3 separate regions of the Homo sapiens genome follow, and all the other regions are reported to be linked to region 1. The links are microRNA targets in miRTarBase. Many come from high-throughput screens and were not tested one by one. Region 1 holds a microRNA gene; each other region holds the end of a gene's coding sequence.

Evidence for each region. Region 1 holds the annotated microRNA hsa-miR-34a-5p (UGGCAGUGUCUUAGCUGGUUGU, at 5,141-5,162, shown strand). A microRNA usually pairs through its seed, bases 2 to 8, with sites in the 3' UTR of a target mRNA and lowers its output. Matches are read on the target gene's strand: a 7mer-m8 pairs with bases 2 to 8, a 7mer-A1 pairs with bases 2 to 7 and ends in A, and an 8mer does both.
Region 2: miRTarBase lists POLR3E as a target of hsa-miR-34a-5p. The part of its 3' UTR that is shown has no 7-base or 8-base seed match.
Region 3: miRTarBase lists YIPF2 as a target of hsa-miR-34a-5p. The part of its 3' UTR that is shown has no 7-base or 8-base seed match.

The regions. Positions count from the first base shown.
Region 1 is chr1:9,146,773-9,156,896 of GRCh38, reverse strand. It overlaps MIR34A (microRNA 34a), which reads left to right and starts at 5,120; the gene lies at 5,120-5,229. It overlaps MIR34AHG (MIR34A host gene), which reads left to right. Exons shown (of 2, transcript NR_132742.1): 2 at 5,062-8,886. RefSeq lists a silencer at 5,075-5,311.
Region 2 is chr16:22,332,014-22,342,137 of GRCh38, reverse strand. POLR3E (RNA polymerase III subunit E) reads right to left here. Exons shown (of 21, transcript NM_018119.4): 20 at 9,953-10,078; 21 at 7,042-8,494. The coding sequence ends at 8,438. LOC124903664 (a long non-coding RNA gene) reads left to right here. Exons shown (of 2, transcript XR_007065026.1): 2 at 3,656-8,228. Among named protein-coding and RNA genes, the nearest start is that of CDR2, 38 kb to the left of the region's middle.
Region 3 is chr19:10,916,170-10,926,293 of GRCh38, reverse strand. YIPF2 (Yip1 domain family member 2) reads left to right here. Exons shown (of 10, transcript NM_001321439.2): 5 at 521-608; 6 at 2,102-2,218; 7 at 2,295-2,461; 8 at 2,617-2,799; 9 at 2,887-3,022; 10 at 3,120-4,101. The coding sequence ends at 3,003. CARM1 (coactivator associated arginine methyltransferase 1) reads right to left here. Exons shown (of 16, transcript NM_199141.2): 7 at 9,797-9,887; 8 at 9,517-9,598; 9 at 6,614-6,699; 10 at 6,328-6,417; 11 at 5,721-5,858; 12 at 5,546-5,635; 13 at 5,348-5,460; 14 at 5,167-5,244; 15 at 4,851-4,919; 16 at 3,219-4,679. The coding sequence ends at 4,537. Among named protein-coding and RNA genes, the nearest start is that of YIPF2, 7.4 kb to the left of the region's middle. RefSeq lists a silencer at 5,083-5,262.

The DNA of each region.
Region 1 (10,124 bases):
GACTGGTGAACACCCAGCATGGTGTCCACAGGTCAGAGGCTCTCGGTGGCTGTGTGTTGGATGTGGAGGGGACCATCATGCTTCTGGGAGATGTGCTGTGGGGCTGAGGAGGTTTCCTGAGTGAATTTTCACATCCCAGTGATGGTGAGAGCTCCTGTGTTTCTGGGAATCATACCATCCGAGAGCATCATTACCAGAATCAGCATTTTCTTTTCTTCTTCTTCTTCTTTTTTTTTTTTTTTTTTTGAGACAGAGTCTTCCTCTGTTACCCAGTCTGGAGTGCAGTGACACCATCTCGGCTCACTGTAACCTCCGCCTTATGGGTTCAAACAATCCTCCCGCCTCAGCCTCCCAAGTAGTTGGGATTACAGGCACCTGCCACCATGCCCGGCTAGTTTTTGTGTTTTTAGTAGAGACAGGAGTTTCACCATGTTGCCCAGGTTGGTCTCAAACTCCTGACCTGAAGTGGTCCACCCACCTCAGCTTCCCAAAGCAGTGGGATATACCGGTGTGAGCCACCGCACCCGGCCAGAATCAACGTTTTCTTTTGTGCTGAAGGAGCTCACAGCCCCTCTGGAGTTCTATTTCCTGCTAAAGATGGCTTCTGATTTTCTCGAATTCCTCCTGGTTTGCTGGACCAGCAGGGCTGGCTGGGCAGCAAGACACATCAGGCCTGGGGCCTTATACATCTTATGTTTAATGCAGCAGAAGCTGGGCCTGATACTTAGAGTGAAGGCCTTTCTGTAGAAAGGAACATCATTTAAATCTCTGTCCTCAGGTTGTGACTCCAGGGAAGTCTGACATGGTTAAAGATTGCTGACTTGGTACGTTTTGTATTTTGTGGAACACAATCAATTTTCATGTATTGATTAATTATTCCCCATTGCCTAAAATCCTGGCCTCCTCTCTCTTGATGGAGAAGGCTGTCCCCAAAGTCCAGGCCTAGAATCTTTGACTGGAAAGACTGTCCTGAGAGTCCAGGCCTCCTCTCTCTGACTGGAAAGACTGTCCTGAGAGTCCAGGCCTCCTCTCTCTGACTGGAAAGCCTGTCCTCAGAGTCCAGACCTCCTCTCTCTGACTGGAAAGACTGTCCTGAGAGTCCAGGCCTCCTCTCTCTGACTGGAAAGCCTGTCCTCAGAGTCCAGACCTCCTCTCTCTGACTGGAAAGATTGTCCTGAGAGTCCAGGCCTCCTCTCTCTGACTGGAAAGACTGTCCTCAGAGTCCAGGCCTCCTCTCTCTGACTGGAAAGACTGTCCTCAGAGTCCAGGCCTCTTCCCTCTGACTGGAAAGATTGCCCTCAGAGTCCAGGCCTCTTCTCTCTGACTGGAAAGATTGTCCTCAGAGTCCAGGCCTCCTCTCTCTGACTGGAAAGACTGTCCTCAGAGTCCAGGCCTCTTCTCTCTGACTGGAAAGACTGCCCTCAGAGTCCAGGCCTCTTCTCTCTGACTGAAAAGATTGTCCTCAGAGTCCAGGACTCCTCCCTCTGACTGGAAAGATTGCCCTCAGAGTCCAGGCCTCTTCTCTCTGACTGAAAAGACTGTCCTCAGAGTCCAGGCCTCTTCTTTCTGACTGGAAAGACTGTCCTGAGAGTCCAGGCCTCCTCTCTCTGACTGGAAAGCCTGTCCTCAGAGTCCAGACCTCCTCTCTCTGACTGGAAAGATTGTCCTGAGAGTCCAGGCCTCCTCTCTCTGACTGGAAAGACTGTCCTCAGGGTCCAGGCCTCCTCTCTGTGACTGGAAAGACTGTCCTCAGAGTCCAGGCCTCCTCTCTCTGACTAGAGACTGTCCTCAGAGTTCAGGCCTCTTCTCTCTGATTGGAAAGATTGCCCTCAGAGTCCAGGCCTCTTCTCTCTGACTGGAAAGATTGTCCTCAGCGTCCAGGCCTCTTCTCTCTGACTGGAAAGATTGTCCTCAGAGTCCAGGCCTCCTCTCTCTGACTGGAAAGGCTGTCCCCAAGTGATTCTCCCCCCTTGGGCTCCCAAAGTGTTGGGATTACGCATGTGAGCCACCATCCAATTTTTTATTTTTATTTTTAGAGACAGGGTCTTGCTCTGTCACCCAGGCTAGAGCGCAGTGGCTCACTGCAGCCTCAATTCCTGGGCTCAAGTGATCCTCCCACCCTGGCCTCTTGAGTAGCTGGGACTACAGGCATGCACTACCACCACCACCTCCTCTGTCTAACCAGAAAAAATTGTCCCTGAAGTCCAGGCCTTCTCTCTCTGACTGGAAAGATTGTCCACAGAGTTCAGACCTCCTCTCTCTAACTAGAAAGATTGTCCCTAAAGTCAGAGCCTCCTCTTTCTGACTAGGAGGATTTTCTTCTCCATCTGAGGGTCCTGACTCAGGAGGAAGAGGAAGGGCCCCCTCCTGTCCTTCTGGTGCCTGGGGCAGCAGCCTTCATGGGTAGATGCCTTCACCCAGGTGGCTGTCTAGATTCAGAAAATGGAATTCTGTTTGGAAGTCTGGGACAGGGGCTGCTGAGCAGTGGAAAGTGCGTGTGGTTTGGCTCAGATGTCCCCGGGATCTTACTCTCTCTCTCTTCTGAACCATCTTTTCCTCTGGGACCGTTTCCGAGCCTGAGGATCGGGCTGGCTGGAAGACTTGGCAGTTGCACTTCACTGTGTTAGTGTTTGCCTGACACCCCTGCCATGCCCACCCCTGAAAACACACGGCCCTCCCTCTGGTGGCAGTGCTGGGGCTGAAGCCAGGAGCCACCATGAGGCCAGATTCCTGCCTCTTGCACCCCATCTCTGGATGGGCCAGCCCATCCCACACGCTTCTGCTGTGCTTACAAAGTTCAAGTGTGCTGTGGTCACTGTTTCCATGTGGCTATCTGTTTTCAGGATTCTGGGGTCCCCTGCCCCGTCCAGTCTTGGCTGGGAGTTGAGGGAGGGAGGAAGCTTTGAGTTTTTGCTTGTCTCTGCGCTGACCTGGGGACACAGCAACTGCAGGATGTACCTTTGGCATCATCCCAGAGCTGCCAAGTCTGAACTTCTAGGTTTGAACCTGGGAATCTGCATTTTACCAAAAGCTCCCCAGCCGATGCTTACACAGTGAAGCCGAGACCTGCCGCTCTAGCTGATGAGCATGCCCTGCTGGAATTTACCTTTGGGTTAAAATCTGACATATTAGGAGCTTTTTTTTTTTTTTTAAGACAGAGTCTCGCTCTGTCACCCAGGCTGGAGTGCACTGGTGTGATCTGCAACCTCTGCCTCCCAGGTTCAAGCAACTCTCCTGCCTCAGCCTCCCAGGTACCTGGAACTACAGGCACATGCCACCATGCCTAGCTAATTTTTGTATTTTTTTTTTTTTTTTGGTAGTAGAGATGGCGTTTCACCATGTTGACCAGGCTGATCTCGAACTCCTGATCTCAAGTGATCCACCCACCTCAGCCTCCCAAAGTACTGGGATTACAGGTGTGAGCCACCACGCCCGGCCTAAGAGCATTTTTCCCACACTAAAAGATAACACAGTCCAGCTGGCTTGCTTTTTAACCAGAGCATTACAGGGTCACCTGTTTGGAGGAGGAGGACTGAGGTCAGAGCAGGCTCCTGTCAACTCCAACGGGACATTTCACAGTGGCCACAACAGGCTGACCTCTGTGTCCTGTGTCCTGCTGACTGTGTGTGGAGGCCTCAGAGGGGCTCTTTCCCCCTTGCACAGAGAGAGACAGCACTGGCTCATGAGCCTGCTTTTTTCTGCACTACCTTACCTGGAACTCAAGTTTCTGGGACTTCCCATGCTGGGGTAGAGGTGACTTTGATCCTCCTGAAAACAGTCCTTCATGCCCCCACACCCACATGGAAGAGGAACTGTTCCGTGGTGGTCCGTATCCAAAGTCACTAGATCTTGGCCTGGCATAGTGGTTCATGCCTATAACCCCAGTATTTTGGGAGGCCGAGGCGGAAGGATCACTTGAGCCCAGGAGTTTGAGACCATCCTGGGCAACATGGCAAGAACCCATCTCTATAAAAACAACAACAACAAAACAACAAGAAGTCAGTAGATCTTAAAGCACTAGATCTTAAACCCTGTGATGGGCAATTTCCTTGTCAATTTAGCGAGGCTGTGATACCCATGATTCAACCAAACGCTTGCCTGGGTGCTACTGTGAGGTGCGTTGTACATGTGGTCAGCACTGATGATCACTGGCTGTAAGTCAAAGGTTCTCCTCTGCGAGGTGGGTGGGCCTCATGCAATCGGTTGAAAGGCCTCAAGAGCAGAACCGAGGTTTCCCTGAAGAAGAAGAAATCCTGCCTGGGGACTGCAGTGTCAGCTCCTCCGGGGAGCTTCCGGCCTGCTGGCCTGCCCTCTGGATTTCAGACTTGCCTAGCCAGCCCCCACAATCACGTAAGCCGATTCCTTGAAATAAACTTAATCTATATCTCCTTCTGGTTCTGATTCTCTGGCAGAACTCTGATCCTCTCCCTAAACGGTGCCCGGGACGGGGGAGGAGTTGGCGCTACTTCATTGCTTCCCTTTCACGCAGACATGCTGACTTTTCAACCACTGTCCTTTTCGAATTTTTTCTCTTCCAGGGAAGTGCTGACTCTTTTTCTCCTTGTCAATTAGTCCTTTTGGAATCTGTTACTGGTCTCAGCCTTCTCCTCCATCCTCTCTCTTTCATTATTTTTATTTTCATTTTGTAGAGACAGTTGCTGAAGGTGGTGGTCTGGCTATGTTAACCAGGCTGGTTTTGAACTTCTCGCCTCAAGTGATCCTCCTGTCTTGGCCTCCAAAATTGCTGGGATTACAGGTGTGAGCCATCACCCAATTTTTATTTTTAGAGACGGGGTCTCACCCTGTCACCCAGACTGGCGCAATCACAGCTCCCTGCAGCCTCAACCCCTGGGCTCAAGCGATCCTCCTGCCCTGGCCTCTCCAGTAGCTAGGACTACAGGCACGCATGTCACCATGCCTGGCTAATTTTTAAAATTTTTTTGTAGAGATGGAGTCTTGCTAGTTGCCTGGGCTGGTCTTGAACTCCTGGCCTGAAGCGATCCTCCCACCTCGGCCTCCTGCATCCTTTCTTTCCTCCCCACATTTCCTTCTTATCAACAGGTGCTGGGGAGAGGCAGGACAGGCCTGTCCCCCGAGTCCCCTCCGGATGCCGTGGACCGGCCAGCTGTGAGTGTTTCTTTGGCAGTGTCTTAGCTGGTTGTTGTGAGCAATAGTAAGGAAGCAATCAGCAAGTATACTGCCCTAGAAGTGCTGCACGTTGTGGGGCCCAAGAGGGAAGATGAAGCGAGAGATGCCCAGACCAGTGGGAGACGCCAGGACTTCGGAAGCTCTTCTGCGCCACGGTGGGTGGTGAGGGCGGCTGGGAAAGTGAGCTCCAGGGCCCCAGGAGCAGCCTGCTCGTGGGTGCGGAAGGAAAAAGGCACAGGGGCTTGGTGTGGGCGGCTTTTGGCTGGGAGAAGTTTGCACGTAGGGAGAATAGTAGCCAGTGTTTGCAGAGCACTTACTATGCAGGAAGGCCTGTCCTAAGTATTGTAAGTGTATTACATCATGTACAAGTGTCTGTGATTAACCCCGTCTTGCAGAGAAGGAAACAAAAGTACAAACAGAAAATGTAACTAAGCATGCAATTAATAAAAAGGGACCAGGTTTTGAACGCGAGCAATCTGGCTCAAGAATCTGCGCCCAACCACCGGCTCCTGTTCTTAGAGATGAACGTGGAGTCCTGGAGACTGCTCAACATTGTGACTTGACTGTGAGCGTACGCGCTCCCTGTCCCCAGGAGACAGATTTCCAGTGCAATCATAGAAAGTGCCTGTGTGGGCTTCGGGAGATGTGTCTGCCTTGGGGAGAATTTTCCTTTTCAGCTAGAGCCAGGCCCAGGATGTTGACGTCAGTGAGACGCTGGTGACGTTCTCTGCTCCAGTGGCTGATGAGAAAAGTTCCTCCAAGCCAGCTCAGTTGAGAAGAATTAAGTTCTCTGGGTCCCACTGGCTTCACCTACAGATGCCAACTTTGAGGCCAGTGAACTGTGAGGCCAGCTGGGCTGATTGCCATGGCAACAGGAATTGGACCAAAGTCACCGGAGGATGGAGAGGGAAGACACAGTGGTGGCTTCCCCAGGTCTTGGACCACAAGGCACAGCCGTGGCCTCCAGGAACCCTGAGATAACCCGTTAGTGGGTCCTGCACTCCAACAGAGCTCATGCAATCAGCCTCTGGTCCTCACCCTCCTCCCATTGGTGTCGTTGTGCTCTCTAACATTGACATTGAGCAGTGAGTGCTCCAGATCTTGTTCCACTGATTTTTTCCACTGTTCTCCAGTCTAGCACTTTCTGAAATTCATCCAAGCCTAAGAGGTGACGCCAAACGTAAGTGTCTTACACCTCGGACCCCATGGACTAAGACAAGCCTCTGGGGTCCATGTGGCACCAAGGATGGGGCCTTCTAGTACCTTTCACACAGGCCAGGGACAGCACCTGCTGCGACCCCCACCCCCAGCCTCTGCTGCTTCTCCCGTTGCCCTTCCAGCCACTGCCCTGGGCACCTCCCCTGCTCCCGCCTCCCTGCCTGGGCCCATCTTTCTTTGCACCTCACCAATTGCGGGGCTTCCTAGTGCTGGAGGGGAAGGGAGCCTGCTTCCATTCTCACCACTCTGAAAGAAGACCCTGCAGAGAGGTTTTCTGGAATTTGGAGCCTAACCTTGGCCTTGACACAGTCCAGATGAGAAGGCCGTCCCCCAGTTAAGCCAGCCCTCCCTCCCTCTCAATGCTGGAGAGGAAACCAGGCAGCTGGTTGCTTCAGCAAACCCCCTCCCTATGGGAATTGTCCTTTTCTTCCTCAAATAGACTGGAGTGCAGAGGACTTGCTTCAGAGAGAGCCCCTTTGTAACGCACATTGCACGGGCCGTGCCCCATGCCCACTCTGCCACAAACTCCCCTCAGCTGCCCAGCCCCGTGGAGCCAGGCGTGGGCTGAAGTGGGGCCAATGAAATGCCTGGAATGCCAGCCGCAGTGACAGGCCAGCACTCAGATGCCTCTCGGGAGTTCTGACCGAAGCAGCACTGAGGACTGCTTCAGAGCAGAAGTCTACGCCATTTTCCCCAGTTCTAGGCAGAAGTAAAGAATGTCTCTACCTTCTCCCAACCAGCAATTGATTCAGAGTCCTGAGCTTTTAAATTAAAGGGACCCCTCTGTTGCTTTATGCAGTAGCCAGCTTATTCATTTGAGTTCAGGTGAAATCATTTTCAAGTAACCTCTTCCTATCCAGCTTTACTTTTAGTTATGCTGACATAAAAACAATAAAAATTGTCCTCCTCAGAGTTCACCTGTAAAAGTTCCTGGATAATTAGTAAGGAAACAGAAAGAGCAGATAGTTGTTGCTTCAGATAAAAGTGATGTCTGGGTTGGGCACGGTGGCGCATGCCTGTAATCCCAGCACTTGGGGAGGCCCAGGTGGATGGATCCCTTGAGCTCAGGAGTTTCAGACCAGCCTGGGCAACATCTCTACAAAAAATACAAAAATTAGCCAGGCATAGTGGCAGGACTGTAGTCCCAGCTACTCAGGAGGCTGAGGTCAGGGGATGGCTTGAGCCCAGGAGGCACAGATTGAAGTGAGCTGAGATTGCGCCACTGTATTCCAGCCTAGGTGACAGAGCCAGACCCTGTCTCAAATTAAAAAAAACTCTTTGTGGTCATTTAATTTACTTCTGCATTCTTTTTTTTTTTTTTTTGAAATGGGCAGTGGTACCATCTCAGCTCACTGCAACCTCTGCCTTGGGGGTTCAAGTGATTCTCCTGCCTCAGCCTCCCGAGTAGCTGGGATTACAGGCACCCGCCACCACGCCCAGCTAATTTTTGTATTTTTAGTAGAGACGGGGCTTTGCCATGTTGACCAGGCTGGACTCAAACTCCTGACCTCAGGTGATCCGCCCACCTCGGCCTCCCAAAGCACTGGGATTACAGGAATGAGCCACTGCACTCGGCCTACTTCTGCATTCCTTAGAGTACATCCTAGCTAGGATATATTCACTTGTCTTTAGAGCTAACAGCAGAAGAAAGGTACCTAGATGCTTATCTAGCTCTTTATCTTTCTAGAAATTCTAGAAGATGAGAGGGGCAGTGGTGGCTCCAAGGGAGTGATTTTAGGATGGACTGGGACAGAGAGGGGCTGCTTACACATACTCACACAGAGGCCATTAATTTAGGGAGTTCAAGGTCCAGGAGGTTGACGGCATCTAGGCCTGTGGCAGAGTGCACTCCTGCTTTGGGGAATGTATGGGCAGCTTCTTGCCTGTAGTTGGAGGGTTAGAGAGAGGGATCAATAATTTCATGGTTGGACTTGAGTTTGGAGCGAGTGGAGTTAGATACAAATTCTATGTTTTTGGAGAAAGTATTTGATCTTCTTGGCTGTGAGGCAAAGCGAGGTTTAAAAATATTTTTCACTTAAAAATATATATATATGCATGTATATTTAATACTGTCTATGGATTGTGCCAATATCTATTTCATGGTTTTGATATTGTGTAGTTATACAAGGAGTTACCACTGAACGAAACTGGGGGAAGGGTACACAGAATCTCTGTACTTTTTTTGTTGTTGTTGCAATTTCCTGTAAATCTATGATTATTTTAAAATAAAAAAGTTAAAGCATACGTATTTACATTTGATTAAATGCAGTGTGATATCCTGGGTTGGATTTTGGAACAAAACAAGGCATGAGTGAAAAAACTGGTAAAATCCAAAAAAGCCTTTAGTTAAAAGTAATACCAGTGTTAATTTCTTAGTTTTGACAAATGTGCCATGGCTGTGTAAGATGCAAATGTTAGAGGAAACTGGGCGAAGAATTTGAGGGAACTCTCTGTACTATTCTTTGCAGCTTTTCTGTAAATCTACAATTATTCCAAAATAAAAGTCTATTAAAAATGTAAGTATACACACACACATTTATATTTGAACACATCTAGGCAGCCAATGCCCTTAAAGAAGGCACTTTCTTCAAACGATGCCTCTGGGATGGGTGAATAATTAAGGGCCCCTTTGACAACTGTGCTGCGGGTTATGTCACTCCCTAATTTGGCTGTCTGGGAAGAGGGAACCCTAGAGAGCTTTTAAAACCAAATAGAGTCCGGGCGCAGTGGCTCACGCCTGTAATCCCAGCACTTTGGGAGGCCGAGGTGGGCAGATCACCTGAGGTCAGGAGTTCGAGACCAGCCTGGCCAACATGGTGAAACCCCGTCTTACTAAAAATACAAAAATTAGCTGGGCGTGGTGGTGGGCGCCTGTAATCCCAGTTACTTGGGAGGCTGAGGCAGGAGAATCGTTTGAACCCAGGAGGCGGAGGTTGCAGTGACCCGAGATCACACCATTGCACTCCAGCCTGGGCAACAAGAGCGAAACTCCGTCTCAAAAACAAAAAACAAACAAAAAACCAAAAAAAAAAAAAAAAAATAGGAACCCTGATCACAAGTCAGAGAGAGTTAATTGTAATACAACCCCATTTTCCAGGCTAGAAACTGAGGCACAGTTGGGAACTGATGCAATTAGATTGTAATTTCCTGGAATATTTAAAACCAAATTATTTTCTGTTTTCCAAGCATGTGCTTGTAAACATACAAAATACAAATTGTAGTAGCTGTGATACATTAAAAAAAAAAAAACGGAAATGACCTTTGGTACTCTACTTAGCTCTCATCAGGATCCGTGGTTAAAATTGGTGGGTGGGGTGAGGATCCAGGCAAAATGCAAGTATTAATTCAGCACTTACCCTGGGCCTTGCACTTGGCAGGATGCTTCCAGGGATGCTCAGGACTAGTGGGCATCAGGGGTTTTTGCTGCCCAGCTTCCATTCCTCTGCTAGCAGCACTACCAGGTACAGTCCAGGGGCCCCCCACCAAGATGCCTGCCCTTCCCTGGTCAAGATGACCCCAACTTCCTGATGGAATGTGAGTCAAGAGCTTAGCGTGCAGAGGAAACATGCTCACAGCTCACTGGCCCCATTGAGAGCTTGCTGTATGTATGTATGTTCGAGATAGAGTTTCGCTGGAGTGCAGTGGCGTGATCTCGGCTCACTGCAACCTCTGCCTCCCAGATTCAAGCGATTCTCATGCCTCAGCCTCCTAAGTAGCTGGGATTGCAGATGTGCGCCACCACGTCCAGCTAATTTTTT
Region 2 (10,124 bases), not on the chromosome of region 1:
TTTTTTTGTTAGTTTGTTTTTGTTTTTGAGATGGTGTCTCGCTCTGTCCTCCAGGCTGGAGTTGTGGTGCGATCTTGGCTCACTGTAACCTCCATCTCTTAGGTTCTAGTGATTCTCCTGCCTTAGCCTCCAGAGTAGCTGGGATTATAGGCATGCTCCACCACGCCTTGCTAATTTTTTGTATTTTTGGTAGAGTCGGGGTTCTGCCATGTTGGCCAGGCTGGTCTCAAACTCCTGACCTAAAGTGATCCGCTTGCCTCAGCCTCCCAAAGTGCTGGGATTACAGGTGTGAGCCACTGTGCCCAGCCTAAAAATAGGTTTTTAATCCATTTTGAGTTGATTTTTGTGTAAGGTGTAAGATAAGAGTTCAACTTCATTCTTTTGCATGTAGATACACACATTTTCTATGTATAAAATCATGTCATCTGCAAGCAGGAACAATTTGACTTCTTTCTTTCTGATTTGGATGCCTTTTTTTTTTTTTTTTTCTCCAGAGTCTCACTCTGTCTCCCAGGCTGGAGTGCAGTGGCGCAATCTCAGCGCACTGCAACCTCTGCCTTCTGGGTTCAAGCAATTCTCCTGCGTCAGCCTCCCAAGTAACTGGGATTACAGGCTTATCACCACCACACCTGGCCAATTTTTGTATTTTTAGTAGAGTGGGGGTTTCACCATGTTTGCCAGGCTGGTCTCGAACCCCTGACCTCAGGTGATCCGCCTGCCTCGGCCTCCCAAAGTGCTGGGATGACAGGCGTGAGCCACCAGCCTTTTATTTTTCCTGTGCAATTGCTATAGTTAGGACTTCCAGTGTTTTGTTGAATGGAAGAGGTAAGAGTGGGCATTCCTTCTATACTTAGTTTGTTGATTTTTTAATCATGAATGGTTGTTAATTTTCAGATGCTTTTTCTGCATCTATTGAGAAGATTATATGGTTTTTGTCCTTCATTCTGTTAATGTGGTGTATCACAATTATTGATTTGCATATGTTGAACCATTGAACCATCCTTGCATCCCAGGGATAAATCCAACTTTGTTTTGGAGACAGGGTCTCACTCTGTCACTCAGGCTGGAGTGCAGTGGTGGTCATAGCTCACTGCAGTCTCAAACTCCTGGGCTCAAGCAGTCCTCCTGCCTCAGCTTTCCAAGCAGCTGGGACAATAGGCACACAGCACCACACCTGGCTAATTAAAAAAAAAAAATTTTTTTTTTTTTTTTTTTTTGCAGAGATGGGGTTTTGCTATATTGCCCAGACTGGGATAAATCCCACTTGATCCTGGTGAATGAGCCTTTTAATGTGCTGAATTTGGTTTGCTAGTTCTGGTGAGGTTTTTGCAGCTGTGTTCATCAAGGATATAAGGATATTGGTCTAATTTGCTTTTATTTTCTTTCTTTCTTTCTTTCTTTATATTTTTAGGTGGAGTCTCGCTCTGTCGCCCAGGCTGGAGTGCAGTGGCGCGATCTTGGCTCACTGCAACCTCCGCCACCCAGGTTCTAGCGATTCTCCGGCCTCAGCTTCCTGAGTAGCTGGTATTACAGGCATGCGCCACCACTCTCGGTTAATTTTTAGTAGAGACGGGGTTTCACCATTTTGGCCAGGATGTTCTCAAACTCCTGACCTCAGGTGATCTGCCCATCTTGGCCTCGCAGTGTTGGGATTACAGGCATGAGCCACTGTGCTCGGCCTAATTTTCTTTTCTTATAGTGTCCTTGTCTGGATTTGATATCAGGGTAGTGCTGGCCTTGTAAAATTAGTTTGAAAGTATTCCTCTTCATCAAATTTTTGGAAGTTTCAGAAAGATAGGTAGTAGTTTTCCATAAATGTTTAGTTGAATTCGGCAATGATGCCACCAGGTCCTGGGCTTTTCTTTGATGGCAGACTTTTTAAAATTATTGATTCAACCTTCTTACTCATTGGTCAGATTTTCGGTGTCTTTGTGATTCAGTCTTGGTAGGCTGTATGTGTCTAGGAACTCATCCATTTCTTGTAGGTTATCCAGTTTGCTGGTAATTTTTTATGGTAGTCTCTTAGGATCCTTTGTATTTCTTTTCTTTTCTCTTTTTTTTTTTTTTTTTTTTTTTTTTGAGACAGAGAGTCTTGCTCTGTCTCCCAGGTTGGAGTGTGTAGTGGCGTGATCTTGGCTCACTGCAACTTCCATCTCACGGGTTCCAGCAATTCTCCCACCTAAGCCTCCCAAGTAGCTGAGATTACAGGCATGTACCACCACACCCAGCTAATTTTTTTTTTTCGAGATGGAGTTTTGCTCATGTTGCCTAGGCTAGAGTGCAATGGCATGGTCTTGGCTCACTGCAACTTCTGCCTCCCGGGTTCAAGTGATTCTCCTGCCTCAGCCTCCCAAGTAGCTGGGATTACAGGAACCTGCTAGCATGCCTGGCTAATTTTTTGTATTTTTAGTAGAGACAGGGTTTCACCACTTTGACCAGGGTGGTCTCAAACTCCTGACCTCAAGTGATCCGCCCACCTTGGCCTCCCAAAGTGCTGGGATTACAGGCATGAGCCACCGTGCCTGGCCTGATCCTTTGTATTTCTATGGAATCAGTTGTAATGTCTTCCCTTCTCCCTCTCCCTTCTTTCCTTTCTTTCTTTCTTTCTTACAAGGTCTCACTCTTATCGCCCAAGCTGGAGTGCAGTGGTGGGATCTCAGCTCACTACAACATTCCCTTCCCAGGCTCAAGTGATTCTCCTACCTCAGCCTCCCAAGTAGCTGGGATTACAGGTGCCTGCCACCATGCCCAGCAAATTTTTGTATTTTTTAGTAGAGATGGGGTTCACCATATTGACCAGGCTGATCTCAAACTCCTGACCTCAGGTGATCCACCTGCCTTGGCCTCCCAAAGTGCTGGGATTATCTTTTTCCATTTCTAATTCTATGAGAGTCTTCTCTATTTTTTCTTAGCTAGAAGTTTGTCAATTTTATCTTTTCAAGAAACCAACTGAATTTTGTTGATCTTTTCATTTTTTTCAGCTCTGGTCTTTACTATTTCCTTTCTTTTATTTATTTTTGAGACGTAGTCTTGCTCTGGTCTTTATTATTTCCATTTATGTATATATGTATGTATTTTTGAGATGGAGTCTTGCTCTGTTACCCAGGCTGGAGTGCAGTAGCGTAATCTCATCTCACTGCAACCTCCGTCTCCCAGGTTCAAGCGATTCTTCTGCCTCAGCCTCCCGAGTAGCTGGGACTATAGGAGCGTGTCACCATACATGGCTAATTTTTTTGCATTTTTAGTAGAGATGGGGTTTTTCCATGTTGGTCAGGCTAGTCTCAAACCCCTGACCTCAGGTGATCTGCCCACCTTGGCCTCCCAAAGTGCTGGGATTACAGGTGTGAGCCACCTCACCTGGCCTATTTCCTTTTATTAACTGGGCCTAGTTCTTTTTATTTTCCTGGTGCCTTGAGGTGTAACATTGGGTTGTTTATCTGAAGTCTTTTCTTTCTGATGTGGGTGGGGATTGCTATAAACTTCTGTCTCAGAGCTGCTTTTGTTGTATTTCATGTTTTGTGTCCATTTTTGTCTCAAGATATTTTTAAAATTTTTCCTTTTAGTTTTTTTCATTGGCCTATTTGTTGTTCAGGAGCATGTTTAATTTCCACGTATTTGTAAATTTTCTGAAATTCCTCCTGTTACTGATTTCTAGTTTCATACCATTGTGGTCAGAAAAGATACCGCCCTAATATATGATCTGTCCTGGAGAATATTCCATGTATGCTCGAGAAGAATGTGTATTCTGCTGTTGGATGGAATCTCCTGTATATGGTAGGTCCATTTTGTTTAATGTGTAAAATCTGATGCTTTCTTATTGATTTTTTTTTTTTTTTTTGGCCTTGATCTGTCCATTACTGAAAGTGGGATATTGAAATCCCCTACTATTATTGTATTACAGTCTGTCTCTCCATTCAGAGCTATTCATATTTGCTTTCTATATTTAGGTGCTCAGATATTGAGTGAATATTTACAGTTGTTAAGTGACCCCTTTATCATTATACTGTGACCTTGTCTCATTTTACAGTTTTGACTTAAAGTTTGTTTTATCTAATGTAAGTATAGCTCTCTTGTTCTCTTTTGGTTTCTATTTGCATGAAATGCCATTTTCCATTCCTTCACTTTCAGTCTCTATGTGTCCCTTACAGGTTAAATGAGACACTTTTTGGCAGCATATAGTTAGATCTTTTTTTTTTTTTTAATCCAGCCACTCCGTTTTTGGATTATGGAAGAGTTAAACCATTTACATTCACAGTAAATGGATTGGAGAATTTAATCCATTTACATTCACAGTAGTAACTCCTTACCTATCCCTGTTGGTAGGTAAGGAGTTACTACTGCAATTTTGTTGTTTTCTGGTTGTTTTGTAGATCCTTTGTTTCTCTCTTACTGTCTTCCTTTGTGATTTATTTTCTTTAGAGGTATGCTTTGATTCCTTTTTATCTTTTGCATATCTGCTATAGGTTTTTGCTTTGTGGTTATCATGAAGCTTATGTAAAACACAGTGATAGCAGACTATTTTAAGCAGATAACTTTGATTGCATTAAAAACTATACTTTATTCTCTCTCCCACATTTTGTTTTTGAGGTCACAATTTACAAGTTTTATATTTTGTATCCCTTAACAAATTAGCTATTAATAGTTTTATCTTTTAACCTTTATACTAAAGATAAGCAATATATATACCACCATTACAGTATTAGAGTATTCTTGAGTTTGACATTATGCTTTTACCAGGTTTATACTTTCATATGTTTTCATGTTACTAATTAACATCCTTTTCTACCAGCTTGAACTCCCTTTCACATTTTTTTGTAAACACAGAGCTGGTGATGATGAAATGCTTCAGCTTTTGTCTGTCTGGGAATGTCTTTTTCTCCATTTCTGAAGTTTTGCTGGATAAAGTATTCATGGTTGGCAATTTGTTCTCCTTTAGCACTCTGAATATATCATCCTACTCTCTCCTGGCCTGTAAGGTTTCTGCTGAGAAGTGCTAGCCTTATTGGAACTCCCTTATATGTGATCTGCTTCTTTTCTCTAGCTGCTTTTAGGATCTTCCCCTTTGTCTTTTGATTTTTGACAATTTCATTATAATGTGTCGTGGTATAGTTTTGTTCATACTGAATCTGATTGGAGACTTTTGATACTCTTATACCTGGATATTTATATCTTTCTCCAGATCTGGAAGGTTTTCTGCTACTATTTTGTGATTTATTTCTTTCTTCTCCTTACTGAACTTCTATAACTCAAATATTTGCTCTTTTGATGCTGTCCTATAAATCCCTTAAGCTTTCTTCATTCCTTTTCATTCTTTTTGTTCTTCTGGCTATATTTTCAAATAATCTGTCTTTGAGTTCATAGATTCTCTGCTTGATCAATTCTGTTGATGCTCACTATTCCATTTTTCATTTCATTCATATTATTTTTCAGCTTCAGAATGGTTTGTAAAAAATATATAACTTCAATCTATTAGGTTTCTTGATTTGGTTTTCTTTATTTTGTTGAGTTATATCTGTGTATTTTCTTGAAGTTTGCTGAACTTCCTTAAAACTATTTTGAGTTGTCAGGCAGTTCATAAATCTCCATTTCTTTAGGGTAGATTTCTGGTGCTTTATTTTGTTACTTTGGTGATAGCATGTCTCCCTGATTGTTCTTGATCCTTGTGGTCATATGTTGATGTCTGTACATTGGATGAAGTGGTAAGGACTGATTCTAATCTTTGCAGTCTGACTTTGCCTGGAACAGCCGTTTACCAGTGAGCCCATTCAGAGATTCTGGGCAAGTTGTCTGGTGTGGTCTTCTGTGGGCAGGCTTGTTGCTGGAGTCCTTGAGCAGGCTGACCTAGTACCTAGGTCAGCAGATGGATGAGCCTGGTGCTTGCATGCATAGGATTAATCCTGGAACGTAGGTCCAGTGGAGTGGGCCAGTTGATTGGGTCTGCAGGGGTACAACCAGAGCCTGAGTCCACAAGGGCAGGCCTGGAGCCTGCATCCAGGGAGCTGACCTGAAGCCTAAAAACCTGCAGGGGTGGGCCTAGGTTCTGGGTCCATAGGGACTGTTCTGGAGCCTCAGTCCGCCAGGGCATGCCTGGCATTGAGGCTTACTGAGGTATGTGCCTGGAACCTGGGTCCACTGGAGCCTGGTGCTGAGGCACACATGGACCTTGGGTCCAGGGGTATTGTACTGGAGCCTGGGATTGTGGGTGCTGGCATGGGGGCATATAGATCAGCCTGGAGCCAGGGGTATATAGATACTGGCCTGGAGATTAGTCTCTGAGGGCTCGCTTGGATCCTGGGGCCATGGGGGCTGGCCTAGAACCTGGGGCTGCAGGGGATATTGGAGCCTAGTCTGTGAGGGCCAGCCCAGTGCTGGGGTTTACTCAGATGGGGCTGGACCAGGGTGGGGAGGGGGTGCCTGCTAGAGTGTGAGCTCATGGGTGCAGGCCTGGCAGTGGGTATGCTTAGAGCCTGTGTTCCTGGCGCAGGCCTGGAGTCTGGGGCTGGCATGATTTTGGGGTCCAATGTTCTCCTTCCTCCAAGTAGAGGGTCTCTCTCTCTCTCTCTCTCTCTCTCTCTCCACCCTGTGCTGCCTGGGGCTGGGGAGGGGGTAAGCTAGGTAATGTAAAATTGTCCCTCCTATCCTCTTTAGTACATCTTATTTCTGTGGTACACCAAGGTGCTGTAATCTCTAGAGGTTCCTTAACTCTTGTGAAGGTATTTTTGTGTGTGGACAGTTGTTTAAATTCATGTTTCTGCAGGGGGATGAGTGCTGGAAAGTCCTATTCTGACATCCCAAGTTCCCTCAATTTTTTTTAAAACAATAGTTCCCTCCTATATTCCTTGTTTCTTTTTCTTGCTATTTGAGTTTGGTGTTTTAACCAGTTCTTTTTATCAATGTAAAGTATTTAAGGCTCTGACTTCTCCACTGAGCCAATTAAGTTCTGCAAGGTGATGGGACTAACATTCTGTGCCGTCCCACATGAGCATTTCCCCTTTCAAAGTGAGAAGGAAGTAGGATGGAAAAGCTGAGACATATTCCAAATCGCTTTTGGTAACTTTACTTTTCAGGTTCACATATGTTAACAGAATCAATACACGATCAACTTGTTAAGTGATGTTACCAAATACTTATTTGGCAAAGTACATCCTTGATCAATGCCTTAGTGATTCTATAGCTAAAATATTAGATGTTTTATTTTGGGGGGAGTGGGGAAATAGCATAGACCGTCATTTAAACCTTCAGACAATTAGTGACTGTGTTGTACAAAAAAGATGGCGAAAGCCTTATCTAGATACCAAAATTCACATGTCATCCAACCTAGCTTACTCTTATTTTTTCCATCAGTTTCTAGGGCTGTGCTATCCAATACTGTCGCAAATAGCCCCATGTGGCATCGGAGCACTTATGATGTGGCTAGTCCAAACTGAGTGTTGAGGAAAGTGTAAAATGCCAGATTTTGAAGACTTTTACCTTATGTTGATGTTTTAGATATTTTGAGCTAAATAATATGCTAACATGACCTTTTTAAACTAATGTGGTTGCTAGAAACTTTCAAAATTATGTACGTGACTCGCCTCTTTCTAGTGGACAGTGCTGCTCTGTCTTCCTCCATTAGCTCCGTTCCCTCTAGATACACGTAACGCTGAGCCCAACAAGATCGCCTTCCTGTAACCATTTGAAGATAGCACCATGATGCTAGTTTAGTGTTTGCATTTATTTTAAAAATACACAAAATAGAAATTTTTACATCAAAGTGTGATAACCTCACTTACACATTGTTCCATACTTACCTGGTTTTGTTTGCATCTTTCTGCAAACATTAAAAGGAGATGGATTTGATTCTGATTTTTTTGCTATGGTTCATGTAAACAGTTGAGACTGCTACATAAAGTAGGTTGTTGTCAAAGGTGAAGTGGCCACAGAATCCCAAGAATAGAATAATTCAATTTGGTTTAATGAAATTGGTGGAGGTCTTAGCAGATAGATAATCCAAGACTAAATATTGTCTTCTAGGCATTTTAAAAATTAAGAACTTTGAGGTTTTCTTCATGTTGTAAACATAACTTAGACCTTGTTGGCATTAAGTTTACAAAAGAAAATATTAAACCATGATTTTTATCATCCTGCCCATGTCAGTATACACTCTCTTTATTATGAGAATGAAACCAAATAATAAGCAAAATACATCAGGAATTTCAAATTGTACTGCAAAGAAGGTCCCAGCTGGTCTCTTCTGGGAGTGATCTAACTAACTTAAGCTGACCCTGCGACTGGCTGAGGATAATCCCTTCTGTCCACTGCACCGTGCAATGCCACAGGTCATGAGATGGTCAGTTCCTCTTGCTCTGTGTCGTCTGAAGCAAGTCGAGGCCCTACTTCTGGTTCCGCCCTTCTTCCTTGGGCTTAGATTTGCTGGGTTAGTAGTTTGCTACTATTGTCAAGACTGTACTGTCCCTTTAAGGTACCACATGCCACCATAGCTTACACAGCAGTCCTATGAGAGAGAAACAGGGTAAGCACAGATTTTTGCAGGAAAAGGAGCTAATTACATTCTGTCCACAATGTCAACACTCGATTTATGATTAGTGAATAGAATACAAATGGGAAATCAAAAACTGCCTAACCATACCACCATGGCTACTACCAGCCACCCTTTCCTCAGGGGTAGTGTTTTTTTTTTTTTTTGAAACAGAGTTTTGCTCTTGTTACCCAGGCTGGAGTGCAACGGCATGATCTTGGCTCACTGCAGCCTCTGCCTCCCAGGTTCAAGCGATTCTCCTGCCTCAGCCTCCCAAGTAGCTGGGATTACAGGCATGTACCACTACGCCTGGCTAATTTTGTATTTTTAGTAGAGATGGGGTTTCTCCATGTTGGTCAGGCTGGTCTCAAACTCCTGACCTCAAGTGACCCACCCACCTCAGCCTCCCAAAGCGCTGGGATTACAGGTGTGAGCCACCGCGCCTGGCCATTCCTCAGGGGCATTTTAAAAGTGAGGGTGGGCCAGGCATGGTGGCTCACACCTGTAATCCCAGCTACTTAGGAGGCTGAGGCAGGAGAATTGCTTGAAACTGGGAGGTAGAGGTTGCGGTGAGCCGAGATTGTGCTACTGCACTCTAGCCTGGGCAACAAGAGCAAAACTCCATCTCAAAAAAAAAAAAAAAAAAAAAAAAGGGGGTCTACGAAATACAGATACTGACATGCCCAGAACAAGGGTGCTTAAAAAACAGTATTACTTATATGGCTCTGGATGTTTAATCAAAACAAGACATTGTCATCAGTTTTCTGTCTCTCAGTGTTGCTGCAAATATGGTTGGTATTTGTACTACAGTCACTTCAGAAAAGCATTATAGGTTGTACATTAGGTGCTTTCATATAGTAAACAGATCATATTCCTTTTTAAACTAAATTTAAGAATGGATTCTACTGAAAGTCATGTGTGTGGCTATGGCAACAATCAGAAGATAGTTCAAAATTCAAGGGAGAGTAGAGTGAGGATTCTCAACTAGGCCCTATCATTTTAGAAGACGCCTACCCACTGCCAAGCTCATCCAACCTACCATATTTTTTTGTTGTTCTATTGTTTTAGGCTCTTAGCAGCCTGAAGCCATGGTTTTTAGTTTCTGTCTCTAGTGACAAGCAGAGAAGAGGGATGAAAGGGGCATTACTGGCCTGGCCCAACCAGAAAGAGAAACAAAGCATCCATGGCTGTATTCTTTCCCTTGGACACCACTGTGACTATATTGTTTGAAGGGGTCAGTCCTCTGGCACATACCCCCTTCCCCAACCAATGCCAATCAATCAATCATTAACAGTTGCTCAAGACAAGACTGACTGGGGAGTGGTCCCAAGGAAGCCTGATTTCATATACACAAAGACACTAGAGTCCCTTCTACACACTGTCAGCCCCTTCCAGAGCCTTTGATATTGTTTGTTATGCACAAAATGGATGTACCTTTAGTACTTTATCCACCTCCTGTTTACTGAGATCTTCTCCACACTCTTGAGTCAACCGAGACTGGATCATGTTTCGGCGTACCCGGTAATTTTTGGAAAAAATTTCAAGCAAAACCTGTCGATGCTTTAGTAGCAAAAACACGTTATGATGGGAAACAGTGATCTAAAAA
Region 3 (10,124 bases), not on the chromosome of region 1:
GATGGCACCACTGCACTCCAGCCTGGGTGACAGAGCGAGACTCCGTCTCAAAACAAAAAAAAAAAGAGGGAAAAAAAAGAGGGGGCTGGGAACGGTGGCTCACGCCTGTAATCCCAGTACTTTGGGAGGCCGAGGTGGGTGGATTACCTGAGGTCAGGAGTTCGAGACCAGCCTGGCCAACATGGTGAAATCCCGTCTCTATTAAAAATACAACTATTAGCCAGGCGTGGTGGCACACGCCTGTAATCCCAGCTACTCGGGTGGCTGAGGTAGGAGAATTGCTTGAGCTCGGGAGGCAGAGGTTGCAGTGAGCCGAGATCATGCCACTACTCCATCCAGCCTGGCCGACAGAGCAAGACTCTGTCTCAAAAAAAAAAAAAAAAAAAAAGAGAGGGAAAGGCTGAGTTCTTTCAGGTGGGGCATGGAAAGAGAAGGGTGGAGGTCAGCAGGGAAGGAGCCTCTCAGGACAAGGGAGAAGCTCCTGGCAGACTTCCATCCTTGACCTTGGCCTTGCCCCCAGGTCCTGGACCGGATCAAAGGCTCACTGCTGCCCCGGCCTGGCCACAACTTTGTGCGGCACCATCTGCGGAATCGGCCGGATCTGTATGGTGAGTGAGGTTGTGCATTTGGTTCCTTGATGGATCACTCAACAAGTGTGGCCTGAGTTGCAGATGCCAGTGTATAGCTGCGGACAAATCAGTCACTCAGACAGTGTGACTTACCTGCTGTTCAGGGAGACAGAGACATGAAGGACTGCAGAGGGTGGCGGGTAGAGAGCAGCAGAGCAGACAGGAGGAGTGGCCCTGCAGTTCTGCAGGGTGCAGCAGGGCAGGCCTCCCTGAGGAGGGTGAGGGAATGAGCCTTGTTGGCAACAGGAGGGGTGGGGGAGACCTAGGAAAAGAGGCTTCCAGAAACGACGTAAGCTTCATGGCAGGAACTTGCATGAACTGCAGGGCGGCATTACCACTGGAGCGAGTGAGCTGCAGGGAGGTCACAGGCGAGGGGACAGATCACACAAGCCTCCCATGCTGTGGCAAGAAGAGATCTTTTTTTTTTTTTTTTGAGACAGAGTCTCACTCTGTCACCCAGGCTGGAGTGCAGTGATGTGATCTCAGCTCACTGCAATCTTCCCCTCCCGCATTCAAGCGATTCTCCTGCTTCAGCCTCCTGAGTGGCTGGGATTACAGGCACGTGCCACCATGCCCGGCTGATTTTTATATTTTTATTAGGGACGGAGTTTCACCGTGTTAGCCAGGCTGGTCTCAAACTCCTGACCTCAGGTGATCCACCCGCCTCGGCCTCCTAAGTGCTGGAATTACAGGTGTGAGTCACTGTTATCTGGCCGAGAATGGATCTTTAAGTGTTTTCGGGGTCCCTCTCGCCATCATGAGTGGCGAGGGCGGAAGCCAGGAGGCTGGGGTGGAGGCGGCCACATGGTGGGGACTGTGGATGTGGAGAGTGGCACTGGATTCTGGAACGTGCTGGGGAAGTAGAAGAGACTGGCTTTGTGGCTAGATAGGTGGGGGTGGGGGGAGTGGGAGGTTAGGAGCGGAGGCAGGCTCTAGGGATTTCTGCCTGGACTAACGGGATGGATAGAGTTGCCACGTATCCACGGGACCAGCTTGGCAGTGAGGGCAGAGGGCAAGGGTGTGGATGAAGCCGGAGATGCCCACCCGGGAGCTTGAACTGGAGCCTGCAGTGCTCAGGGCAGAGCCCTGGGCTCTAGAGGAGGCATAAGGCCCTGGGCTTGAAGGAGGTCATACTATGGGTGAACGCAGACATGGAAGGGGCCAAGAACTGGGCCTGGCTGCTCCCCATGGCTGAAGGGGTCAGAGAGTCAAAGAGGAGGTGACAGGGGTTGAGGAATTGGCACCAATGAGGTGAGACACAGGCCAAGGGTGTGCAGTCCTGAGTGTTTCGGGGAGGGGGATGAACTGACAGCCAGCACTGGGCTCAGCCACCAGGAGGCCCCCGGTGTCCTGGTGAGTCAGGCAAGGTGCTTAGGAAGAGGCTGGGGTCTCAGCACAGCTCAGTCAGGATACATGTCTGCTTGTCCTGGGAGTGCAGGGCCCGGGACCCTGACTGTGCCCCCTACCCCCAGGCCCCTTCTGGATCTGTGCCACGTTGGCCTTTGTCCTGGCCGTCACTGGCAACCTGACGCTGGTGCTGGCCCAGAGGAGGGACCCCTCCATCCACTACAGCCCCCAGTTCCACAAGGGTAAGCAGACGGGCAGGCCCAATGCCTGGCAGGGCCCTGGGGTACAGGGGGTGACTGCTCACCTTGCCCCCCCCAGTGACCGTGGCAGGCATCAGCATCTACTGCTATGCGTGGCTGGTGCCCCTGGCCCTGTGGGGCTTCCTGCGGTGGCGCAAGGGTGTCCAGGAGCGCATGGGGCCCTACACCTTCCTGGAGACTGTGTGCATCTACGGCTACTCCCTCTTTGTCTTCATCCCCATGGTGGTGAGTGTGGCCTGGCGCGGAGTGGGTGGTGGCTGTGTGGGGACACTGGCATGGTCACCTGCCGCCTCATTCCCATGGTGGTGAGGGTGGCCTGGTGCAGAGTGGGTGGTGGCTGGGGGGACTGGCATGGTCACCTGCCGCCGTGTTGCTCCCAGGTCCTGTGGCTCATCCCTGTGCCTTGGCTGCAGTGGCTCTTTGGGGCGCTGGCCCTGGGCCTGTCAGCCGCCGGGCTGGTATTCACCCTCTGGCCCGTGGTCCGTGAGGACACCAGGCTGGTGGCCACAGTGCTGCTGTCCGTGGTCGTGCTGCTCCACGCCCTCCTGGCCATGGGCTGTAAGGTACGGGTCTGGGGTGGCCACAGGTGGGGCCGAGGGGCTAGGGGGGCATGGGCTGGCCCTGCCTCTGACCCCAGGGGTCTTGTGCAGTTGTACTTCTTCCAGTCGCTGCCTCCGGAGAACGTGGCTCCTCCACCCCAAATCACATCTCTGCCCTCAAACATCGCGCTGTCCCCTACCTTGCCGCAGTCCCTGGCCCCCTCCTAGGAAGGCCCGGGTCCCACAGGTAAGGACTATTCCCAGCTGGGCTAAGGGGGCTGCCCTCCCACTCCCAGTCAAGGCGAGAGGTTCTGGGGCCACTCCCAGACAATTCTTTCTTTCAGGCAACACCTAAGTGGACCAACCCCTCTGCCTGTCCTGCCCCCCAGACGATGACTGAAGGCTCCTTTGACACCTTGAGATGATTCTGCTACTTTCCAGACTTTTCTTACAAAGCAAACACTTTTATTTTCTATGCAAAGGTGATTCAGAGAATTTATATAAAGGCGGGCGAGGGGCAGCCGAGCAGGGAGCTTTGGGACAGGGCTGGGGCCCCCATATCCCCCCCGGGCCACCTGCTTTCCCTCCTATGGCTCCCCTGGAACAGGAGGGAGAGCCAAGGGGGCGGCCCAGCCTGGACAGCGCCCGCTCCTGCCTGGGTGCACACACGGCGGGCCTGAGCTCCAGCATCTGAGTTTGGGGGTATGAGAAACAGGGGAGCAGAAGGAGAAGAAAACTGCCTGTGCTGCAACACGTTTCCTCATTTATTTTTTCTTTCTTTTTCTTTTTTTCTTTTTTTGGAGGGAGAGGTCCCTGCAAGGTCCCTTCCCGGGCAGGGGAGGGATGGAAATGCCGTCACAGTAGTAGGGACTGGAGCGTCTACAAGGATGGAGGGGAGCTACTCAGGCCTAACGTTAGCTACAAGGAAAAAGGACGCCTTCCGTGACAGATCCTTGAGGTGTCTGTGTCTGCCCCAAGTGGCCGGCAGTGGCCTTCCCTCCGGGCCCAAGGCCTGCAGCCACCTGCTCTAACTCTTGAGTGGGGGGGCGGGGGGGGACCTGCAGGGGCTCGGGGACAGGACAGCAGCAAGAGGCAGGGGCCGAGGACGGAGGCCTTCCCGACAGTGGGGTGGGTTGTACATTCAAGTGTGAGGTGAACCCTTTGGTGGGGAGGGGGCCCCTGAAGCCTCGGCGGGGCCACCCCTCCCCGCGGCGCCTCTGAGTCTAGGGAGAGGGGCTGCTGGCTCGGCCCGGCCGGCCTGGCTTCACAGAGGGTCTGCGGATTGACACTGGTTCTTTTCATAAAAAAATAAAATTAAAAAAAGCAGCATGTCACGTCCGTTGTGACCGAGGCCTGGTCGTCGAAGGGGAGGCCCCGCCTGGCCAGGCTACCTTCCCACTGGAGACAGGCAGGGGGACAGGTGCTAAGGGACCTGGCAGGCAGGGCTGGCAGGCCCCATGGCGCCTGTTCCAGCAGATGACAAGCCCAGGTCAGGGTAGAGCGGGCAGGAGGGGGGACGAGGGCTCCCACAACATGATTTTGTGTAAAATATGGCAGCGACACACGCTCAGGGCCGGGAGGTGGGGGTTAGGGTGGGGACGGCGGCAACATCGTGTAAAAAAGTGTCCCAGTTCCCATAGCAAAGAGAGCTGTGACCGGGTGTTCGAGCTTCTCCAGTACAAGGGGGAAAGCCGCCCGGCGGGGGCGGCGGGCAGGGACATCATTTGGTTTCCTGGTGCTGTCAGTCCGCGGGGCGGGCCCCTAGCTCCCGTAGTGCATGGTGTTGGTCGGGATGGACATGGGCGACGCCATGGAGATGGCGGGGCCGCCCATGGTGAACTGGCTGTTGACTGCATAGTGGGCACTCGTGCTGCCACCACCACTGCCCTGGGCGCCGGAGGACCCTGTGGAGCAGGCAATGGCAGTGAGGGGCTGCCCTGGCCCGCCCAGCCCCCAGGCAGAGTCACAGAGAGAGAGAAAGGGCAGGCAAGAGGGCAGGCGGGCGGCCGGACAGAGGATGGCGACTCACACGCTAGCTCGGCCCCCACGGGCCCTGCCCCCGCCACCCTCGTTACCTTGGACAATCCCCGTGCTCATTATGGAGCCCATCCGGGAGTGGGTGTGATTGACAATCCCCGTGTTGGCTGCGCAGCGAGAGGGAGGAAAGAAGGAAGGGAGACGGCGTCACCGCCCCCAGCCACCCAGCCCATGCACAGCAGCAGGCTGCAGAGCGAGGCAGAGAGGACGGAGAGCCTCGGCCGAGAGCCCCCAGGAAGAGGAAAAGGTGAAAGGACCAAGCAGAGGCCGACCCTGGTCACCACAGGCCCTTCCCGGCCCCTGGGCAGTCCTGGGCATGGCTCCCTGCTGCCCCTGGCCCTGGGGGACACTCACCTAAAGGAATCAGGTTGTTGTGGCCCACGCTGGAGCCACTGGCAATAACACTGCTCAAGTCATAGGCGGTCGGCATCCCTGTGTCCAGAGAGGGAGACGTCAGGGCTGGAGGCAGAGGGGCCAGGCCTGCGGCGAGGGCGGCCTCCCGGGTTGGCTGGGCATTGGGGTGGGCCCTGCTCACCTGCCACGGCCATCCCGCTGCTGAGGTTGTAGGTGCTGCCCGTGTTCCACATGTTTTCCGAGGGAGATGTGTAGTGGGAGCCGGGTGGGGGTGAGGGCGTTGTGCCCGTGTATCTATGGCAGAGACAGAGCCATGGGCAGGGGCAAGGGGGTTGCAGGGCCGGGGCGCCCCCCTGTGCAGGCAAGGGGCCCCTCCTACCTAAAGAAGGGGTTTTTCAGATCCAGGAGGTTACTGGACTTGGAGCCGGTCTGGTCCACCTGGGCCACAATACTGATGTCGTAGCTCTGTCTGCGGACAGGGTGCAGGCCGTGGCATGAGCTGCTGGGCAGATGGACCCCTGCCCACCACCACCAGCCCCAGGGAGCAGTCGCACCTTTTGTTGGCAATAAGCAGACATGTCCCTGAGAGCGTGTCCCCTGCCTTGGCGAACAGTGGTGACTGGAACAGGCACCGCACCTGGTACCAGTGGGTCAGGGGCTCTGTCGGGGCTGTGGACAGCCACACGGTCATTCTGTGGAGCAGGGACAGGCACATACTTGACTGGGCCGGCGCCACCACTGGAGCCACCACCTTGTATGCCTTGAGTCCTCCCCAAGCACCTGCCCCCTCTGCCAGGGACCCCTGGGACCCTGGAGCAGAGACAGGCTGGCCCCCAGGCAGTCCCAGACACAAACATGAGCAGGCATACATGTACACACGAGGGGCCCGCAACCACGAGATCCCTACTCACCCTGACATGTGCCAAGAGACAGACACAGACCCATGAGGGACAGACACTGGGAACACAGGACACACACACACATACACACACACACACACACACCCCACCCACAACAGTCTCTTGCTCCGAGACAGGCTCTCACTCCCATTGGAAGGGATGGTGGAACCTGGAGCCATGTTCCACCCCCCCAGCCAGGTTGCAGCTGCAGGAAGCCCTGGGAGTGGGGAGGAGGCAGCATGGGCTGCTCTGCGGCACTCACATGGAGCCGATGAAAGCAACGTCAAACCAGAAAGCCAGGCCGTGGACCAGCCCTGAATGCAGCATGTGGAATTTGAATGGGATTTCTATCCTGGAAGGCAAAGGGCAGTGGCTGCTGGGGAAGCCAGACAGGCGCTGCCGAGAGAGAAGAGGGGGTGCCAGGTGCAGAGGCCTGGGGCCCCCGCCCACCATCTGCCCTGGGACGGCAGGATGCCGGCGGGAGCCAGGGGTGGCCCTGACCTTCGGCCTGAGCCAGGCCTGGGAGGATGGAGTGTGGGTGCCAGTACCTGTGCAAATCTCCTTCTTTGGCTTCTAAGAAGTTCACCGTGTACTTGACAGACTTGGCCATCAGGATCCGGATGTCAAATGTGTCCTGGGAGAGACCACAGGTGTGACGTGGCATCTGACGCCAGGGCCAGCATGGGAGGGGAGAGCCCTGCCCCTTCCCCCAGGTCTGCCCACGGCTTCTAGGCTGTGCAGCTAAAACGAGCTTGCTCTTCCCAGACACGCCGTGAGGAGGGGACCGGCACAACGCCACCGAGGGCAATCAGGTGACAGCTCTCCAAATGACAAGTGTTTATCCACATAAAAGATTTGGCACTACAGGAGTTTAACCTCCAGATACATGAACACATCAACAAACTTACATGTATAATTAGATTGTCCGTGGTAGCGACACACTGGAAACCATCTAATTAAACCAGTGATGGCTCTCCCATCAAAGACCATGCGGACGTGAGAAAGAATGAAGAGGCTCTTTATGAACAGATGAGGAAAGATCTCCAAGCTAAATCATTAAGCAAGTTAACCAAAAAAGCAAGTTAAAGAACTAGGTGCTAGCTGGGTGTGGAATTGTATGCCTGTAACTCCAGCTACTCAGGAGGCTGAGGCAGGAGGATCGCTTAAGCCCGAGAGTGTGAATCAAGCCTGGGAAACACAGGGAGACCCTGTCTCTTAAAAACAACAACAACACTAGTGCTGCTGTCCACTCCCAGCAATGTTTATATCCGACTAACACACCTGCCATGAACTATGTAAACCGAATAAAATCCAAAGAAAAGAATAAACCAGTTGTTGGAAGCACTGGTGACCAACCAGAGCGGCCAGGATTTTGGGGATCAAGCTCCTGGAAAGGAGGGAAATGCCCTTTCTGGAGGGAGCCCTTTCTGGCCTCTACCTTTTCCCCATGGGGAGGGCAGAAAACGGCCACCTCGACCTTTCAGCAGCTTCCTTGGGTGGGGAAAGCAAAATGGGAGCTCAGGGTTACCAAGGCAGCTCGGATTCAAGGGGCTGTGATGTCAAAGCAAAGGGAAATAAGTGCAGGAGGGCAAGGTGGGCGGTGCACACTCAGTGCGCTTGTGAAATTGGCCAACTCCTGAGCTTTGAGCGAGGCAGGGCATCAGAGGCTAAGACACCAAGCAGAAAGCCGCTAATAAGAGGCTCAACGCCAGGTGCAGTGGCTTATGCCTATAATCCCAGCACTTTGGGAGGCCGAGGCGGACGGATCACCTGAGGTCAGGAGTTCAAGACCAGCCTGAGTAACACAGTGAGGCCCCATATCTACAAAAAAATAAATTAGCCGGGCATGGTGGCACACTCCTATAGTTCCAGCTACTTGGGAAGCTGAGGCAGGAGGATCACTTGCGTCTGGGAGATCGAGGCTGAAGTAAGCCATGAAGTGATTGAGCCACTGTACTCCAGCCTGGGGAACAGAGTGAGATCCTGTTTCAAAAAACAATAAAAGCTAACGGGTGGTTCAGCAGCATATTGGTAATGAGGCTAACCACTGGACTTGCATTAACATTACCAAAGGCTGTACCATAAAGCAGCACCTTCTCAAACTGTGGCCTCTTCCAAGGCACCCTCATCATAATACAAAATTTGCATAATACCACCAAAATATTTCCTGCTTTTTTCACTCATTCACTCCCCAGTGATATCACAAAAGACTGAACACGCTGGGCATGGTGGCTCACGCCTGTAATCCCAGCACTTTGGGAGGCCGAGGCAGGCGGATCACCTAAGGTCAGGAGTTTCAGACCAGCCTGGCCAACATGGCGAAACCCCATCTCTACTAAAATTACAAAAAACTAGCTGGGAGTGGTGGCAAGCGCCTGTACTCCCAGCTACTCAGGAGTCTGAGAATCGCTTGAGCCCGGAAAGTGGAGGTTGCAGTGAGCTGACATCATGCCACAGCACTCCAGCCTGGGCAACAGAGCAAGACTCCGTCTCAAAAAAAAAAAAAAAAAGAAAAAGAAAATGAGAGAAAAAAATGGATGGAAAAGACAGAAAAGAGTATAACAATCATCTGAGATATGGTGAAAAGGTTCACTGTACACGTAATTGGAATCCCAGAAGGAGAAAGAATGGGGCAGACGTAGTGTTTAAAGAGATAGTATCCAAGATAGTCCAAGAGTCTCCCAAAACGAATGAAAAACATCAAGAGCAGGGGGAAAACAGAATAAAATGGAACCTTTTTTTCTTTTTTTTTGAGACGGAGTCTCACTCTGTCGCCCAGGCTGGAGTGCAGTGGTGCGATCTCGGCTCACTGCAAGCTCTGCCTCCCGGGTTCACGCCATTCTCCTGCCTCAGCCTCCTGAGTAGCTGGGACTACAGGCGCCCGCCACCACGTCTGGCTAATTTTTTGTATTTTTAGTAGAGATGGGGTTTCACCGTGTTGGTCTCAATCTCCTAACCTCGTGATCTGCCCGCCTTGGCCTCCCAAAGTGCTGGGATTACAGGTGTGACCCACTGCACCTAGCTTTTTTTTCCTTTTGATTTTTAAATCATGGATCTATGTATCAAAAATCTCAAGTAAAATCAATCAATAAATCACATCAGCTCACCAAGGATAAATTCATCTAGTAATGGTTCTTTTTTATTTTTATTATTTATTTATTTTAATTTTAAAAATAGCGATGGCGTCTCTGTGTTGCCCAGGCTGATCTTGAACTCCTGAGCCTAAATGCCCCCTCTGCCTTAGCCTCACCTAATAATGTTCCACATGTATTGCATGTGTGCTGTGTGCTAAGTGTCTACATGCATTGACACTTTTGGCCCAAATCTCTGTGAGAGCGCTGTGCAGGGCAGAGGAGAGGGCTCAGAGAGGGGCTGTAGCTTCCTGAGGGCTGCACAGCTGCACAGCAATGGCAAGTGATCACTGCAGCAGTACCCTGGAGGCCCTACTCACCACCACAGGCTGCCGGAAATACTCATCCACCGCGGCACCTCGGAGGGCCGACAGGTCCACTCCATGGAAAGATGGCTGGTACCTGTGGACAGGCCCCACCCCCACAGCAAGGTCAGGGCTGCAGAAGAGGCAGGTGGGGTAGCCCTGCCTTCTCTCCCAGTCAGCCCTCATCTAGCCCAAGTCTTTCAGAAAAAGAGGAGTGCAGGCTCTCTGGGGAGCTGGGGCTGTCCCTGAGAAGGCAGGCTGTGGGGCCCAGGCGGGACACCCAGGGCACACTCACCAGAAGTTGGCCTTGGTGAACTGCTCCATGTAGAGCTGTTCATCCGTGAAGGGTGCAAGGTGGACGTCACCAATGGTAGGAAACATGTTTCCTGGGAGTGGGGCAGGGAGGGGTGCTGGCGTCAGGTGACACATCCCACACTGCCTGGCAGAGCTTCCAAAGGACCCCAAGACCCCCAACCCTGGGTGCTCCCAGCCTGTCATCCATTCGTTCCTGCACTCCTGTGACAGTGGCACCGAGCGCCTATTCTGATCAGTGTTTCATCACCACCACGGGTACCTGACCTGCACCAGCTCACGAATTCCACCTGAGACTGGGAGGCTGGTGG